Regions from separate parts of the Homo sapiens genome. Here region 2 is linked to region 1. A link means that fine-mapping ties the variant in region 1 to the expression of a gene that starts in the linked region. Tissue or cell type: thyroid. Region 1 holds a variant in brackets; the other region holds the start of a gene. All regions are shown on one strand. Distances are between the middles of the regions.

Region 1 (10,040 bases):
GGCAGGAAGTAACTTTCCCAAGGAAATGGGGGTTAGGGGAGGGTTAGGATAAAAACCTGACTCCTAAGTCCATAGCTTTGGCCACATATCCCAGCCTCCTCCTGCCTCCCTGATCCCATCCCCCATCCCCAACCTGTGCCCCGGCCCACTAGACTCTGCTATCGCCCAGGACTCAGCACCTACTAAACACCAGGAGAGCCCTACAGGAGACTCTGCTGAATGAGAACGGGCCCGTCCTCCATCTGCCCAGATGCCCAAGTCTCCTGCTCAAACAAGCAGGTTGGAGACTGACGGGAGCAAGGCTCAGCCTTGACCCTTCCCCATTCTGGTGCTCCTGTCCCCTTCATGTCCCAGGGCCAGCTGCCAAGGCTGGGGAAGAAGGTGCGATGAGTCCTGATGGGGCAGCTGAGGGGCTCCTAGGCTGCCTGGTCTGAGCAGGGACCAGCCTCCTTGGGAGGTCAGGTCTCTGTGACCCTGGAAGGTGAGTTGGCTCCCACCACTCCCACAGAGGAATGAAGAAAAGGAGTTGAGCCCAGTGCCAATTCAAGGACAAGACAGGATTAGATTCATGCCTTACGTGGATTGTCCTTTGCAAATCCTTGGTCAAACTGGGATATTCCCCACACCCCCTTTTTGCACCCTTCCTCAAATTAAGTCCCAGAAACAAGGTTCTGTCTCCAGCCATGCCTGTGGGTTTGTCCTTTAGTAATAATAAGAACAACAGTGGCTCCCTCTTAAATTGCAACAGCTCTGGACCAGGATGACAGCCAATGAAAAAGTCCATAGATGTAGTGGTTAGGAGCATGAACCATGCAGCCAGATGGTCTGGGTTCAAATCCTGACTCTGCCACTCACCAGCTGCAGGACCTTGGAGAGCTACCTAACCTCTCTGAGTCTCGATTTCCTCATCTGTGAAATGGGGCCTGAATAGTACCAAGAATAGTCATGAGGCTTAAACGAGTTTGCACATGTGAAGTGTTAGAACAGGGCATGGCATACAGTAAGTGCTCAAGGAGCGCTCACCCCTAAGGGTTTTAAGTCCTGTCCTCTGGAACGAGAAAGGATCCCTTTTTGTTACCAGGAGACTGAGGCCTGAGGGACATGGCCACCTCCAAGATGGCACAGGTAGCTCAATCTCTCAATAGCCATATACGAGGGCCTCCTGAGTGTCAGGGCCCATGCTGGATACTGGAGCACCACGCTGCACCAGAACTCATCCCAGAAGTGCTCAACCAGTTGGGACTCAGTGGAAGAACCCAGGTCTCTGAGTTGGAAGCTGGGACCACAGCCCAGCTGGCCCTGGTGATACGGAAGCTGCAGTCCGAGGTCGAGCATTTTTGGTATTCCAATTACTCTCCAGCCAAGCTCAGCTCTGCAAGCTCATGGGACCCAGCCAGCAAATCCTCTGTGCAACGCACACCTTGGCAAGCACCTGCCGAGCGCCCAGCACTCAAGGAAGAAGCCAAGGTGCTGTGCCATGATCCCACCTTTAAGGAAGTCCTCTGTCCTCCACATCCCTCCTGGCTCCTTCCCCAAGACAATGGAAGCAAGATAACACCCACGAAAGCCCCAGGCCAAGGTGGGCGCACAGTAGGCACTTTGTCAATTGTCATCCATTTACCGTGAGGAACACCTCACTGGACAAGTGCAAAGATCTGACTTTATCTGTGCAGAGGAAAATATGCTCAGAATAGGACAGGGCCACAGATAACTCAGCATGCCTGACACTGACCAATCAGTGGCCTCTCTCCACGATACCTGCTGTCTCACCTTCCTGGCTGTGTGCTCTGATGGGACAGACTCTGAAATGGGATCCAGGCACTTGGGCTAGAGTCTTGGCTTTGCTGGTAAATCCATTTGAGACCTTAGACCTCCTGTCCCTGTGGGTAAAACAAGAGATTTAGACTGTTTGTGAGCTCTTACAGCCACTGGGTCTCCAGTCCACATTCACTGGGGCCATTCTCACTCTGTGCCAGGCCCTGGGCTCTATCCCACCATGCTGGAGGGGAGCTCCTGTGCTGGGGACACATGGAGCAGAGTCACTGGGTCAATCCTGGAGGACCTGCTGGAGGAGGTGATACCTGGACTGAGTCTTACAGGATGAATAGGAGTCGAGTGGGTGAAAGAATGAGGATTCCACCTCGTAGCACTGAGCAGTCGCAGTGGACCAGTGTGACTTAGAGAAAGCACTGTGGCAATTTGTGAAGGAAGAACTGGAGGGGGTGCCTGGAGTCCAGGGTTAGGGGCAGGCAGAGGGATCCTGATAGACTCTGAAGGTCATTACAGAATAATGTTCTGTCCAGAATGTTCTGGACTGAAGGCTGGGGAGTCCTCAGGCGGTAGCTGGTAGCTGAGGCCATGGTAGACAAGACTGTCAAGAAAGAGCATGTGGGGAGAGGCATAGGCAGCAGGGAAGGGAAGGAGGAGAGTGAGCGCCAGAGCAGAGAGTGGAGGCGCAGAGCAGGCACAGCTCCTGAGGCCACACACAGGAAGACAAGGATCCAGAAGGTCTGGCCACCGCATATCCCCCCTTAGCACAGCCTGGACACAAGGCAGGTGCTCAACAAATGTTCGGGTTTTTAAAAATCCTTTAAATGGAAAGATTAAGAAAACCCAGGAGAGGCCGGGCATGGTGGCTCATGCCTGTAATCCCAGCACTTTAGGAGGCTGAGGTGGGGAGATCACTTGAGGTCAGGAGTTCAAGACTATCCTGGCCAACACGGCGAAACCCCGTCTCTACTAAAAATACAAAAATTAGTCGGGCATGGTGGCGCATGCCTGTAGTCCCAGCTACTCAGGAGGCTGAGGCAGAAGAATCACTGGAACCTGGGAGGCGGAAGTTGCAGTGAGCCGAGATCGCACCACTGCACTCCAGCCTGGGTGATGGAGCAAGACTCCGTCTCAAAAAAAAAAAAAAGAAGGAAAACCCAGGAGAGGTGGAGGAAAGTAAAGCCTAGGAGAAAAGCGGACTGTGAGGAGGAGGGGCAACCCCCAGCATCAAGGCTACTAAGAGGTCAGAACCACTGGGTTCTGCTCACAGAGGTCCTGGTCACCGTGGAAGGATGCGGGATGGGGAGACGGACCTCAGGACTAAGGGGCGACTGGCAAGTGCAGACATGGAAAGAGTGAGTGCGGAAAACTCTAGACCTTTTGATGAAAAATAGACAAGGAAGAGGAAGGAGAATGGAGTGGAAGAGAAGGGGCTGGAGGAAGGGGAGGGGAGAGGGAAAGGAGAGGCAGAGGAAGAACAGTGGCTAGAAGGGCAATGTGAGCCAGGGAAGGATTTAAACCCTAAACTGGGTATGTGGTGAGTGATCTCAGGTGAGTCAAGTCACCTGCTGAGCCTCATTTTCCCAAGCGTAAAATGAAGGGAAATAGCCCCCACCTGAAAAGTTACTGGGAGCATCCAGCGTTACCTATACAAAGCATCTAGCACAGTGCCTGGCAGGCCACAGGTCCCCAGAGAATGTGTCCTTGTCATCCTCTCGCCAGAGCCCTATGCCACCTCAAGAGTAGCAGGACACTCATTATCAAAGCATTATCCCCATTTTACACATGAAAAACTGAGTCACAGACTTGTCTCTACCTTCTCAGCCCCGCCACCCCCCACCCCAAACACACAGGGCAGCATCTGTTCCTCACTGGTGTGGGAAAGGTGAATGTGGCCCAGGGCCTGGCATGAGAAACATTTGTTGATTGAATGAATGAGACAGCCAGGCACAGTGGCTCACACCTGTGATCCCAGCACTTTGGGAGGCCAAGATGGGAAGATCACCTGAGCCCAGGAGTTTGAGACTAGCCTGGGCAACATAACGAGAACCCCGACTCTACAAAAAAATAAATAAATAAAAATTAGCCAGGTGAGGCCAGGCATGGTGGTTCACGCCTGTAATCCCAGAACTTTGGGAAGCCAAGGGCAGGTTGATCACTTGAGGTCAAGAGTTGGAGACCAGCCTGGCCAACATGGTGAAACTCCATCTCTACTAAAAATACAAAAAAATGTAACTGGGCGTGGTGGCACATGCCTGTAGTCCCAGCTACTCAGGTGGCTGGGACAGGAGAATCACTTGAACCCGGGAGGGGGAGGGTGCAGTGAGCCAAGATGCACCCCTGCACTCCAGCCTGGGCAACAGAGCAAGACTCCATCTCAAAAAGAGAAAAAAATTAGCCAAGTGTGGTGGAGCGTG[T/C]CTGTAGTCCCAGCTACTCAGAAGGCTGAGGCGGGAGAATCACTTGAGCTGGGGAAGTTGAAGCTGCAGTGAGCCATGATTACCCCACTGCACTCCAAGCCTGGGTGACAGAACAAGACCTTGTCTCCAAAAAAAAGAACGAATGGGACAGACATAGAAACCAGGGAAAGCCTGCCCTGGCCTGGTGGCCACAGCGTCGCAAAATAAAAAGAGCCTGGAAGGTAATCAGTCAGAGCCAGGAATTTGGGTCTTGGAGGCCCATCAGAGTCAGCCATATGAGCCACAGGAAACACCTGGTTCAGGGATTCTCACACTGGAGTGTCTGGTTAGGTTCACCCGGAGAACTTGTGTCCTGGGCCCCACCCTAGACCCACTGAATCAAGTATAAGGGGGCAGGAGTCCAGGAATCTGCACTTTCTACCCGGCACTCAGGTGTTGCTGATGCCAGTGGCCTGTGGGTCATGCCCCTATTTTATAGAGAAGAGGACCACCTATGAGATCACATGGCAAAGCCCTACAGGGCCTGACCGATCACCTGGGGATCCAGGCTGCAAGCCACTGTCACTTCTGGTGCCTGCAGGTGCCCTGGGAGTGGTAGGCAAGGAAAGGAACCACAGCAGGGAAGAAAGATGAGAAAAGGCAGGATAATGGCTCCCATCTAATACACACCAGTACTAGGTGCCTATGTTCACGTCATCAGCCCCCCTTCAAAACTATATGGTGAGTTTTATTATTACGTCCATTTTTCAGGTGAGGTGAATAGTGTTCAAGAGGTAAAGCGGATTGCCAAAAACCTCACCACTGGTAGGTGGCAGGATGTGAAACCTGGTCTGTCTGGGGTGCTAGAGCTGACTTCCTTAACCACCTGGCACACTGCTTCCCGGAGAAGCAAGGAGAAGAGGAAGAAGGAGGAGAGGAGAGAAAAGGAGAGGGCCCCAGTGGAGGGAGGAGGTGGGGCCTGCATGGAGAGGGGACGGTGTGCCCTCATTGCCCACCCAGGTGGCTGAGCCAGGCTGGCTGCTCAGGGCGGAGAGTGCCTGCCTGTCCCGGTGCCCTGCGGTTGCCATGCCGACCCCCAGGCTGTGTTTGCGGATGTTGTATTTGATTTCACACGTTTGGAACTCCGATTACGTCATTTCGCAACACAGGGTTGCCATGACAGCCGGCCCCATGTTCCCTGGGTAGCTCACACCTTGGGGGAAAGGGAGGGGCCCGGGCCTCTCCCCCAACCAAACCTCAACCCTGAGCCCCCTCGGGGAGAGAGGCCAGGAATGTGGGGTTGGGAAGCACCTTGGGATCAATCAACGTCTACATTTGGGGAAACCAAGGTCTGGGTGGTGAGCCAGCTCCCCAGGCAACGCACCGCCTGTTGATGGAGGCTTTGCACACCTGGCTGCACACGGCTGAGGGCCTGACAACTGGCACCCAGCGACCAGCCTGGCCATCTGCCCTGACTGGCTCTCTGGGGCCTCAAAGTAGCTGCTGTCCTGGTCCATATGTGACTTTCCACAAACTCACAAGTGTCTGGGCCAGTGTGGGGGCGGGCTGGTTGGCTGAGAACACCAGCTTTGGCGTCAGACTTAGGTGCAAATGGTGGCCTCACACTAACCAAGCGTGCACCCTGGAACCTCGCTGAGCTTCCGCTTCCACATCTGAAAATGATGATGAAGGTACTTATCCCTTCAGGTGGCTGGGAAGAGTCACCTTAGCACACAGCGACCTAGCACAAAGTAGATACAATCAATAGTGAGAGTTGGGGCTTCTTCTATTTTCTTTCTTTCTTCTTTCTTTCTTTCTTTTTTTTTTTTTTTTAAGCTGAGTTCTGGCTTTTGTTTTGCCACCAGCCTGCACTGTGTGACTGTGGGCCACTGACCTTCCCTCTCTGGTCCTCTCAACTAGTAATAATGTGATAATCTTTCTCCACTTCTCACTTCCCTACCATTAAACTCTCCACCCCTTGTCCCTAAATTACAATTATTTAGCATCTTATATCCTGGCTTCCATCTATTGGGTAATGTCAAACAGAAGGGCTTCTGGACTTAGTCTGGAAACCTCAGTCTAATGTCACTAAGTCCCAGCTTCTTCTCTACAAGCTGCTAAAGAGACATATACATAGACATGCTTCTGTATCTATTCTGACACCTGTCCATCTGTGTGTTTATATGTACACATATATATAGATAAATCACAGATTCATACAGAGAGGTATTTGTGATTTCAGTTCAACCTCAGAAGGTCCCTTTATTTTTGAGATGGAGTCTCGCTCTGTAGCCCAGGCTGGAATGCAGTGACACAATCTCAGCTCACTGCAACCTGTGCCTCCCAGGTTCAAGCAATTCTGCCTCAGCCTCCTAAGTAGTTGGGATTACAGGTATACGCCACCACACCCAGCTAATTTTTGTATTTTTAGTAGAGATGAGGTTTCACTATGTTGGCCAGGCTGGTCTTGAACTCCTGACCTCAGGTGATCCACCAGCCTTGGCCTCCCAAAGTGTTGGTATTACAGGAGCCACCGTGCCCAGCCACAGAAGGTCCCTTCTTATTATACCTCTCCACTTTCCTTTTTCTTTGCATTCTTTTTAATTAATACTATTTTTAATTGGCATCTCATGATTGTATACATTTATGGTCAGGGGTCCCGTCTATCTGTAAATTGGGACTGGCCATTCTTCTCCACCTCTATGTTATGAAGCTCCCAGGGTAGATGACCAAGCCTCTCAAAAGGACACAGGACTTTTCATCAGCTATCCTGTCACAGCTATCCTTGCAAAGGATCTGCCCACAGAAATCCAAGAGACGGGAAACTAGTTAAATGCCCATTTGGGGCCAGGTCAGGTGGCTCATGCCTGTAATCCCAGCATTTTGGGAGGCAGAGGGAGGAGGACTGCTTGAGTCTAGGAGTTCAAGACCAGCCTGGGGAACCAAGTGAGCCCTCATCTCTACAAAAAAAAAAAAAAAAAATCAAAAAATTAGCCAGCAGGATGGCACGTGCCTGAGATCCCAGCTACATGGAAGGTTACATGGGAGGAGGATGGCTTGAGCCCCCCAGAGCCTCAGGGAGGAGTATCCTTGAAGAGATCACATGGCTCCTCCCAGGTAGCCTCCCAGGTAGAAAGGTCAATGCTGCAGTGAGCTATGGTAGTGCCACTGCACTTCAGCCTGGGTGACAGAGCAAGACTCTGTCTCTGTTTTTCACAAAATAAATAAATAAATAAATACCCATTCTGTAGATGTCGAAAATAAAATGAGAACCAGAGAGGGTACAGGAGTTGCCCACGATCTTAGCAACTGGTGAATGGTAACTCTAATCCTTTCTGCCAAACGCACACCCTCAAACACCGTCCCGGAAAATGTGAGGAGTTACTCCCAATAAGGAGGGCCGTACCCCTGGGCAGCCGTCACAGGTCACAGCTGAGGGCTTCCTGGGATGACCACAGAGACCTGCCCACTGCCCCTGCTGCCGCCCAGCGCCCTGCCCCGCCCCCACCACCCTGGATGCTTCCCCAGACCCGGAGCCAGGACCAACATGAGCTGTTTTCCCTTGATGCCGCCTCCAACTTGCATGTGCTCGAGTTTACTGGAAAAATCAAACACTGCCACATGTGCACAGACATGCACTGGGCGGGGGCCATTCAGCCCAGTCCAACCCAGCACGTCTTTCTGGGGCTCAGCTTTGGCCCGGAGCAGAGCACAAGTTTGGGAGTCTGACTGGCCTGGGTTCGAGCCCTCACTCTTCTACTGTGATGCTTTGTGATCCCAGTCCCTTAACCCTCTTAGCTGCAGCTTCCTCAAACGTAACATGGAAATGACAACGCTCACTTCAGAGTTGTCAGATGAACGACAGGACACAGCAGGCTCGAGAGTGCCTGGCACAAATTTGCCCACTGAGTGTCCGCTCCTGCCCTTCCTCCAGGGAACAGAACTGAGGCCACAGTCCTTACAACAAAGGAGCTTTTTTTTTTTTTAGACGGAGTTTCAATCTTGTCACCCAGGCTGGAGTGCCATGGCATGATCTCAGTTTACTGCAACCTCCGCCTCCCCAGTTCAGGTGAATCTAACCAAGGAGGCTTTTTATGAGCTCGTCCGAGAGCCAAGACTAATCTTCATGAGAGAATTGAAGATAAGACAGGGGAACAATCAAGTGCTAACATGGTGCTTCCGATGGGTTGCAAGAGATTGTGAGCTCAGAGGAGGCGGATGTCATTGTAGGCTGGAAGAAGGCAGGAAGGACTTCCTGAAAGAAAAGGAGAGAAGTTGAAGGAGTTCCCAGAGACAGCCATGCAAGCAAATCATTGCAGAACAGCCAGATGTGTGCAGTAACAGATACAGCTGGAAAGAAACAGCGTAAGGAGAGAAAAGACAGCTTTGTGAGAGCATCACAGAGAAGTCTTTGGACTTCTAGAGACTTAGAGGATGAATGGGCTGGACACAGGAGAGAAGGCAGAGATGTCATGTAGCGGTGTCAGGAGAGAAGGCAGAGATGAGCATGTAGGTGGAGAGAAAGGCACAGGGGTGTGAAACAGCCCAGAGCACTGGAGGAATGACTGAGCCAAAAAGAGGGAGGTGGCTGGGAAGACAGGCAGGGGGCAGATCAGGGAGGGTCTTGAATGCCAGGCTAAGAGGCTTAGAATTAATGCCATAGGCCATGGGGAACCATGGAGGGTTCCATGGAAAGAAATGACACGAACAGATTTGAGGTTTAGAAAAGCACTCTGATGAAGAGGGAGTTAGGCTATGGATGGTGAGAGTGAAATTGGAGGCAGGAAACCCAGAAAGAAGGTTCTCCATTGGTCCCACTGAGAGTCAACTACTATGAAAGAGAAAAGGAATGAATTTGAGATCATTTAGAAAGTAAAATTGCAGCCAGGCACGGTTGTTCATCACCGTAATCCCAGCATTTTGGGAGGCCAAGGCAGGCAGATCACCTGAGGTCAGGAGTTGAGACCAGCCTGGCCAACATGATGAAACCCTGTCTCTACTAAAAAAAAAAAAAAAAAAAAAAAAATACAAAATTAGCTGGGCATGATGGTGGGCACCTGTAATCCCAGCTACTTGGGAGGTTGAGGCAGAAGAATTGCTTGAACCCAGGAGGCAGATGTTGCAGTGAGTCGAGATCACACCACTGCACTCCAGCCTGGGCAACAGAGTGAGAATCCTTCTCAAAAAAAAAAAAAAAAAAAAAAAGGAGTTCTAGACCAGCCAGGCCAACATGAAAAAACCCCGTCTCTACTAAAAATACAAAAATTAGCTAATTAGCTGGGCATGGTGGCGGGCACCTGTAGTCCCAGCTACTCAGGAGCTGAGGCATTAACAATCACCCAAACCCCGGAGGCGGAGGTTGTAGTGAGCTGAGATCGTGCCATTGCACTCCAGCCCGGGCAACAGAGTGAGTGAGACTCCATCACAAGGAAAAAAAAAAAAAAGTAAAATTGCTAGATCTTGTTTTAATTGTTGTAAAATAAAATTTACCATTTTAACCTTTTTAAGTGTACAGTTCCTGCAGCAGCAAGTACATTCCCATTGTGCAACCATCACAGCACCCACCTCCAGAACGTTTTCACAGCTGAAACTCTGTACAAATTAAATGCGAACTCCGCAACCCCTGGTAATACCATTCCGCTTCATCTCTATGAATTTGACTACTCTAGGTACCTTGTGTAAGTGGAATCATACAGTATTTGCCTTTTTGCGTCTGGCTTATTTCACCCAGCACAGACAGTGTCTTTAGGGTTCATCCATCATGCGACATGTGTCAGAATTTTCTTCCTTCTTCTTTTTTTTTTTTTCTGTGTGTGTGTGTGAAACAGAGTCTCGCTCTGTCACCCAGGCTAGACTGCAGTGGCGTGATCTCGG
Region 2 (8,852 bases), 43 kb after region 1:
GTGATTCTTTCTGATTAAAAACTTGACTGGGTTTCCCTTCCTCAGTGAATTTTCATAGTTATTAAGGAGGGAGAACTAATTCCAAAAATGGGCCGCTCAGGAAGTTAAGGAATTGGTCCCTTCAAGAAAGATATGTTCCCATTCTATTATGTGTGAGGTACTCATGGTGCTGGGCACAGAGAGGGATATGGTGTGGAGGGCTCTGCCTTGGATTTTGAGGGTTTAAAGTAACCCCCAGGAAGAGTCTACAGAAACCCCATGAGCTTCCCCTTCTGAACACAGACATTAATTCTGACATGTGGAAGACTTTTGTCCATTGAACAGCTTTGTGCTCGCTCAGTGCCCAGACCACCTGCTTCCAAACCCTGGCTGTGCTGCTACCTGGGTGACTTTAGGCAATCCACTTGAACTCTCTGTGCCTCAGTTTCTCCATATGTAAAATGGGAATAACAATAATCTTAACCTATGTAATAGGGTTGTTAATATGTCTTATAGCAGTTTTAGAGCCACACATGGGCTTCCCCTCCTGTAAATGGAACTAAGAACAGTATCTACTTCCTAGAGCCGTGGCCAAGATTCCATGAGTTAATGCGAACAGGCAAAGCACTTGGAACAGTGGCTGGTATATATAGAAAGTACCAGATGCACTCTTACTACTGACATTAAAGAGCTATTGACAATTTGACTTTTTAGTTAATTTGCATTGATATCTTCACAGTTGGGCTGTTCTTGAAAGTTAGAAGAGCATTTCCTCCAAGAGACTTTCTCATTAAGAATTTCCGGCCAGGCAAGGTGGCTCATGCCTGTAATCCTAGCACTTTGGGAGGCCGAGGCAGGTGGATCACGAGGTCAAGAGATCGAGACCATCCTGGCCAACATGGTGAAACCCCGTCTCTACTAAAAAAATACAAAAATTAGCTTGGCATGGTGGCACGCACCTGTAGTCCCAGCTACTCAGGAGGCTGAGGCAGGAGAATCAGTTGAACCCGGGAGGCGGAGCTTGCAGTGAGCCGAGATCACACCACTGCACTCCAGCCTGGGCGACAGAGGGAGACTCCGTCTCAAAAAAAAAAAAAAAAAAAAAAAAAAGAATTTCCACTGACTCAGAGCAAAGGGCTCCTCCTCTCCATTATCACAGCACAGCTCAGGGAGACACTTTCTGATGGCTCCAGTTCTCTCCCTCCTGGGCTCAGCTTGATCCTGCTCGTGGGGCTCACACACACCCACTCATATGCATCTCCCAGCACCCCAGGAGAAGGCAAGCCAGGTAACATTGTTCCCACCTGATGGATACAGAAACTGAAGGTCCTGCAGCTTCCCAAAGGTCAAGTGTCATGTGCTTTGGGACAGGGGCTTAAGCCCAAACACCTGAGTCCCAGGCTCAGGATGGTATGGGAGCCGGGGATGTGGCTCTGGAGTCCCAGGTCCACCACTTTCCTTAAGCAAGTAACCTGGTGTCTTCATCTGTAAAATGAGGGTGATAACAGTACGTACTTCCTAGATTTGTTGCAACGATTGAATGAGTCAAAGCGTGTAAAGCACTAAGAACAGTGCCTGACATACCAGGGCACAACATTTGAGTGGCACAGTGCATCCTAGGTGGCCTGGCACAGTCTTGGTCTATGCCTGGTAGCCTGGCAAATCTTCCAGTTAGAGCCCCCCGTCACTCTTGAAAACATCCTGGTTTGGAAGAAAATTATATGGCCATCCTAACATAATTACCTGTTGCCATCTAAATTATTATCGTTGTTATTATTATTTTCCACCATACCATACTGAGTCTCCAGGAAGTGAATATGCTGGTTCAAAATAGGTCAGCACTTCAGTACCACCCTTAAACACAGGTGAGAGTGGCCCCTGCCCTGGGGACCCCCCCAGTCTGGCCCTCCTCCAGCTAACCTCTCATCACAAGGAGGGAAGACCATGGGACAAGGGGACATGCCCACCTGGAACTTGTGGCACCTCCACTAGAGCATACTCTGGGTGCCCAGGCCCCTGGGGTTCCCTGCAGAGATGGCCCTTAGCCCACTGCCAGGACCTGCGTGGGTCTCTTCCGCAGATCCAGCCCGAGGACAGAGTACACCACTGGCGTGCCCAGCCCTAAGCCTGAGGGGCTACCAAGGGGCTGAGCTTGCATGTGCAGGCTGAGATGTTCATGAATGTGCACAAGACTCTCGAAGGACAGGACAGAGGCAGAGGTAGGAAAAGGTAGGGGGCAGGGGCCCAGGCCAGGCACTAGGGGCCCCCTCTCCCTGTGCCACCAGCTCCAGGGCAAGGTCTGAGGAGTATGAGAATGCCACACTCAAAGCCAGCTTTCTGCCTTGTTAGGAAAGTGTATTTGTCAAGATAGAAGAATAGAACATAATTTATTTTGCATTTTGTTAGCTTGATTTATAGCCTGCAAATATTTGGACATATGGTATGTGAACCTCCATCTATACTCTTGCCCAGCCCCACAAATCCCTGCCACGTTCCACCCAGTCCCAATACCAAATGTTTACTGAGCCCTTCCTCTGTTCTGAGCCCAGGGGACCCCAGGGCACCATCCCAGCACCCAAACATGATGGCCTCTGTGGGAGCAAACTTCATACTCCAAAATCAGTGAAGAACTAAGATCAGGGGGTGAGGGCATAGACCTGGTCCTTGCCTCTGTTCCCAACCCCTAGGGAGGTGGGACAGGTGCCTCCCTTTCCGGGCCTTAGTTTTACTGTTTAGATAAGAGGTCCCTCTACCTGTGAGCAGCTGGGGGATGCAGCCTGGAGGATGAGTAGCACACAGAATCAGATCAGTGACCTGAGAGGGTGTGGCGTGGACTTGGGCAGACAATTCTTAGGGGTTACAGTGATGTGGAATTGAGCTCTCTGGACTAGCCAAGCACAGGCTGTTGCAGCCCATTCCATTCCATTCATTTATTCCTTCCACAAACATGGCAGGCACCGCCCTGTGCCCAAAACAAACAAGAGGCTGAATCTGCCTAGTATGGGAGGATAAATCGAACAAGCACATAGAAAACCAAATGCAAAGTAAGACTTGGTGAGTGAGCCAAGAGAGCTTCCCTAAACTCCTCCTGTCCTCCCAATCACAGCGTCTTAAGCCCACTTCCCGGATGAGAAAACGGAGGCTCAGAGTCAAGACCCTGCTGCCTGGGGCGCGCCCAGACCTTGTGGCTAGCCAGAAGCGAGGTTTCGGATTCCCACAGTCTCGGGCCACTGTCCCAAGCTGCCCAAAGCTGGGGAGGCCCCGTCCAGCTCCCGGAAGGCTGTAGGGAGGTGAGCGCCAGGGAGGGGCTGGGCCGCAGGACGCGGGGGCCAGGAGGCAGGGAGGGGCCGGGCGGGGGGCGGTCGGGAGACATCCAGCGCCCCGATGTGCAGCCCCAGGCACCCGGAGCGCCAGCGCCTGGGTGCGCGCGAGTGGTAGCCGCGCTCCGGTGGGTCCGCCGCGGTCGGACCGGGGTCTGGGCTCCAGGCGCCGGCGGGGGGCGGTGGGGGGGGTAGGGGGACAGCGAGGGCCGCGCTGCAGTGCCCGCAGCGGCGGGTTGGGGGAGCTGTGCCCGCCTGTCCCCTAGGCCCGGGCGGCGGCCGGGCAGCTGGGTCGCCGCGCCTCTAGCCGGGCCGGGCTCGGCGGCGCGCAGCCAGGCGTGCCTGGAGCGGGCTCGGGCCCCAAGTCCTCCGGAGCGCCCAGCCGGGGAGGCCCCGGGAGCAGCCCAGTCCCGCGGGCTAAGGCGGCAGCCGCCGCCGCTCCGGCCCGCCCCCGGGGGGGTGTCCCGGGCCGCTGGGCCCGCCCAGGTAACCCCATCCTCGGCCCGCCCCCGGCCCGCCCCCCCGGCCGCCCGCCCGCCCGCCCGCCTCCGCCGCCGCCGCCGCCGCCGCCGCCGCCGCATCCCGGCTCTGGGGCGGCGCTGACAGTCTGGTCCGCGCCGGGCAGCGGGCGCAGCAGCGGGCAGGCTGCCGGCAGGCACACGGAGGCAGAGCCCCGCCGCGCGCGCCCCGGCCCGCCCGCGGGCGCCCACCTGCAGCCCCGACGGGAGGCCCCCCGCGGCCGCAGCCGCTGCCCCGGGCCGGGCGCCCGCGGCGGCACCATGAGTCCCCGCTCGTGCCTGCGTTCGCTGCGCCTCCTCGTCTTCGCCGTCTTCTCAGCCGCCGCGAGCAACTGGCTGTAAGTCTGGCCGGGGCCGAGCGGGGCGGGGCGGGGCGGGGCAGGCCCCGGGGGCAGCGGCCGGTGCCAGGCGGCGCGGGGCAGCGGGCGCGGGGCAGCCCGGCAGGTGTCTCGGCCGCGGGACCGGAGGCTCGCTCGCTCCGCTGCCGCCGCCACGGCCCGAACGTCCCTCTGCACACCCGGGGTCCCCTCCTGCCCGGGTCCGGCTCCCTGCCCAGAGGCGTCAGGGGTGGCTGTGGCGGCGTCCGCACCGGTAGGCGGCTCGGGGCTCTCGAGGGCGCCAGGGGTGCGAGCGCGGGGCGGTGGCCCGGGAGGGGCGCCGGACGCGGGTTGCAGTCCAGCCGGGCTGACAGGTCGCTGAGGAAGCCCATTGCAGGGAAGGGCTCCGGGACATAATAGCAGGTTAATCCCGAGAAGTCCGGAGCGAGCTCCCAGCGCCGAGCTGCGCCGAGCTGCGCCGCGCTGCGGGCTGGGCTGGAGGCGTGCAGGGACCTGTTTCTGCTTGGGGGGCGGGAGCCGGAGACAGAAGGAAGGGACCAGGACGCCTGGTCTCCCAGGGCCCGGGGCTGGCGCTGGCGCTGGCCGGGCCTTGGTTTTTCCCCGGGGCAGGAAGAAACTCCGTCCAGACCTTAAAGAAGACAACGGCCCCCCAGCTCCCCGTGTCTAGCCTAAGGAGGAAGGGGTGGTAACCGCTGGTGACCTGTCTGTTTCTCCTTGACTGGATCTGCGCTCAGGGCGCTCCCTGGGTAGGGGCGGAAGGTTTGCTGCAGGGAGGGAGACTAAAGGGATGAGCTCCAGTGAGTGGGTGGACAGGGAGCAAGCGGACCCGCGCTCCTTTCATCCCCGCTCAGGGACAGTTCCCCATGCCCCGCGCTTAACCCTGGCCCCAGTTCCTCCTGCCCAGAGCTCTGCCACCATCCGCTGTGGGCAGCCAGTGGGGAGCCAAGCTCCAATATTGATCTGAAAAGCATGGGGTGGGAAGGGGGATCGCCAACAGTGTAGCTGGGGTTTCCATGGAGACAGGGAGAGAGGAAAAAATTCTCTCTGCATCAAGACCAAAGAACAAATATCTCCCATGAAATTGCCCCGAGTGTCCAATGGCTGTTGCTATGAGGTCATTGTGGCCAGCCAGAGCCCTCCAGGCTGGAAGGAGTGTGTTCGTTGGGGTCAGAGCCACCCAGGGCTTGGGGGACGGAGGTGATGTGGAATTCTCCCAGCTGTTCCGAGAGCAAACGACTCCAAGGCAGCCCGAAGTGGCTGCGGAGCTTTTGTTTTTCTTGGAGCCTTAATTTGATTAACACTTCAGGAGCAGTGGCAGAGTGTACAGAAAGCAAGGCACCACCACCTTCTCCCACTGCCCCCCTGCAGGCCACCCCCTGAATGGAGCCTGGGTCACAGAGCTGGGGAGGGAGCTGATTTGGACTTGGAGGACCCTGGGTGTCCCTGGAGCTGGTTCTTGAATGCATGGGTTCAGAGCGGGGGCCTCCAAAACAGATCTGAGCATCAGAAGGAGCAAGAACTGTGTCTCACCTGCCCAGCACCGCCAAAGCCACAAAAAACAAACAAACAAACAAAAAACAAAGAAAAAAAAGTGGCAGTCCAAGCGTCTGGCCCAGGCCTACATGGAAGACAGCGACATCTGCAGTGGAAAGTCCTTCAGGAACATCTCATCTTTGACTCAGATGAGGAAACTGAGGCCTAGGGAGTGGAAGCTACTTGCCCAAACTCAGAGCTGAGAACTGAACCCAGGTGTTCTGACTCCCAGGCAGTGACCCTATACCCCCTTCCCTGAAGCTGTCCCAAAGTGGAGCCAGCATGGCCCGGTGGCATCACCACTCACCTTCACCCATGTCCACCCCCAGAATCCCAGCCAGGAAGGCAGCCTCGGCTTTGGATCATGCAAACTGTGGGGAATTCCAACAACTCAGTTCTCCTGCCTGTGCTGTTGGGGGTGGGGTGAGGAGGGGCAGCCTAGGAGAAGAGAGGTTGGCAAACCTGTTCTCTGCAACGGTGATGGTTCAGGTTGCCACGAAGCAGGTCTCTGGATGACCCAGCTCACTCCTGCTCCACCCCCGGCTTCAAGCCAAGGGTCTCTCTGCTCCACCCAAGGCAAGAGGAACAAGAGGCTTCCCAGGACCCTCCCAAACCAGAGAGGCTATGAAGGAGAAGACACTGGGCACATACCAAGGTTGGTCCAATATTTATCAACCTCTGTCGAACAATCAGCTGGCCAGGAATGGCAGCTCTGGGGGAAATGGATGTCACAGCCTGGCCTCCCACAAGCCTGGAGTCTAGGTAGAAAGACATGATAAAACCACGACTGGGTGGAACAGGGCACATGCTCTATGGCTGTCAGAGGAAAGAGCTGAGTGTGAGCCCGAGCAGGCACAGAGGGGGACTTGGTCTGAAGACTGTATGATCATGACAATAATAATTATTATGATGACTCCCACAGCATGATCTAAATCCCAACAACGTTTCAATCCCGTTACAGATGAGAAGATTGGGGATCGCAGAGGTAACTGCCCAAGTCACCCAGCTGGTAAATGCCAGAGGTGTCCGACTGAAAAGCTGCCTCTAGAAGGAAAAGCTTCGGGGAGGCAGGTGTCCATGCAGGCATGATGGCTGGCACTGTGTCTTTTCAAGTGTGAGGTATGAGGAGGCCTGGCCCCGAGAGGATAGCTGACAGCACCTGCCAAGGAGCAAGGTCTAGGTTCCGCTCGCCTCCCAATACCCTGGAGTCCAGGGTGGGTCTGCTGGCCAGTGGCGAGAGCCAGGACTATCTGTTGTCTCAGAAGGGCAGGTGGCCTGGTGGGGAGGCCAGGTGTCCCGCCGCGTGCAGCTGTTGGGCAGGATGGAGCCTGGAGCTGGGAGGGCAGCCTGAGGCCTGGGCAGGCCCAGAGAAGCTGGGAGCTGTTGATTAGACTCTCGTCTGGCACCCGGAGGAGCCCGCTGACAGCTTGTGACGGCTCCCACCACTGAGGGAGGGCCCGATGGATGAAGAGTCCCTGGGGGAAGGCTGGGACTCTGCCCTTAAGGAGGCTGCCCTGCCACGGACCTGAGCTCAGAAATGTTTCTAATGTCCCCTCTTCCCTGCACTGAGGCTGTACCGGGAGTCAGGATACCTGGGTTCCAGTCCCAGCTCTGGGCCACATATTGGGTGTCCCCTTCCTCCCTTGGGGCCACAGTCCTCAGCAGATCGTTCTGAACCCCAAATGGAAGTGCTGGGGAGGGTTAGGGAATAAATAAGCTAAGGTTTCAGGACTGTGGATTTCTGAGGAAAGTAGTGGGGTAGCGGGGTTCTAGCAGAATCCCACGGGTGAGGGGAGGGGGACCACGCTGCACTCAGAGGCAGGCCGGCGGCATGGCCAAGAAGTGGGTCTTTGAGATCCAACCGAGCTCTGCCCTGCCCAGCTGAGTGACCTTGGACAGGTTATTAACCTCTCCGAGCCTCGGGTTTCTCATCTGTAAAATGGAGCCCACTGATGCAAATGGTGCACAATGGTGGTTGGGAAGAAAGAGCGAGCCCATGCGTGTGGCAAGCTGGCACTGGGCCAGGCACGCTGATGGAAATGGCAGCCCTGGCAGCTGCCGGAAGCAAGGGCTGCTGTCAGGGAGCTGCAGGGCTGCGTCCCTATTGATAGGGGTGGTGGAGAAAACGGGCCTTCAGGCTGCTGCTCCCAAGCCCTGTTTATCCCAGGCTGTCCCACCCAGATCCACTGATTTAACACAGGTAGGATCCTAGGCTGCAACCCCCTTGCTCAACAAGGGCCCCCGCAGGAGCCTCCCAGAGTCAGGAAGACCTAGCCTGGCTCACAAGCCAATCTTGCCAGGCAGAGGAGTTGCTGCTGGGAGCACCTTTCCGTGCCCTGGGGGCAGTGAAGGACGCATCATGCTTTCCATTGGCTTTGAGTCCCCACTGGTGTGCGACTTCCGGCCAAGCTCCCCTGAGCCTGCTTGCCCGGGGGCCGGGGGACAGTTTATATCTCCCTTGGCCTTGGGTGGAGTGAAGCCCAACACTCTGGGCACAACTCCCTGGGGCAGGGATGGGGCACGGCCAGCCCAGATGTGCAGTGCCAACCACACAGGTAAAGATGTGGCCCACCTCCTCCAGGAAGTGTGCCCTTGATTCCCAGCTTTAAAAGATCCCTCTCTCCCCTCTAAATAGTCAAAAATCCGTCTCCTTAGAGCTCCTCCGTGGCTCTGGGCAGTGAATTACAATCACAAACACCCCCACAGTACTTCACAGTTTACAGCAGGATTTCTCAGCCTCCGTATCACTGGTATTTGGGACTGGATGAGTCTTCTGTCTGGGTCTCTTCTGTGCATTGCGGGATACTTAGCAGCATACCTGACCTTTACCGGCTAGATAGCCAGTAACATCCCCCCAAGCGAAAGGACAAAATGTCTGCAGACTTTGCCAAATGTCCCCTGGGGGGCGGGCAAAATCATTCCCCCAGGAATCAATGGTTGGCAAAGATCTTTCACAACCATTACCCATTTGAACCACACACCATCCCCTCCATGCCTCACCACAACCACTTTCAGAGGACAGGAGTGTAGATTACTTTCAGCCCCACTTCAGAGGCCCAGACGTGCAATGACTTCCCCAAGGTCATCCTGCAAATCAGAAGCAGGACTGGAACTGCTCTCCCATGTCCAGATTTTACAGCTTTCATCCCCTGCCTATAGAACCG

The links. PIP is the estimated chance that this variant, and not a neighbour inherited with it, causes the effect.
Region 2: WNT4 starts here. The variant in region 1 is fine-mapped to the expression of WNT4 in thyroid (GTEx, PIP above 0.99).

Annotation. Positions count from the first base shown.
Region 1 is chr1:22,180,666-22,190,705 of GRCh38, reverse strand. No RefSeq gene overlaps it. Among named protein-coding and RNA genes, the nearest start is that of WNT4, 43 kb to the right of the region's middle. The variant T/C (reference allele first, on the strand shown) is at 4,188.
Region 2 is chr1:22,138,149-22,147,000 of GRCh38, reverse strand. It overlaps WNT4 (Wnt family member 4), which reads left to right and starts at 3,904. Exons shown (of 5, transcript NM_030761.5): 1 at 3,904-4,155. The coding sequence starts at 4,079. It overlaps LOC105376845 (a long non-coding RNA gene), which reads right to left and starts at 6,048. Exons shown (of 5, transcript XR_947050.1): 1 at 5,996-6,048. RefSeq lists silencers at 3,485-3,814, 4,377-4,436 and an enhancer at 7,490-8,444.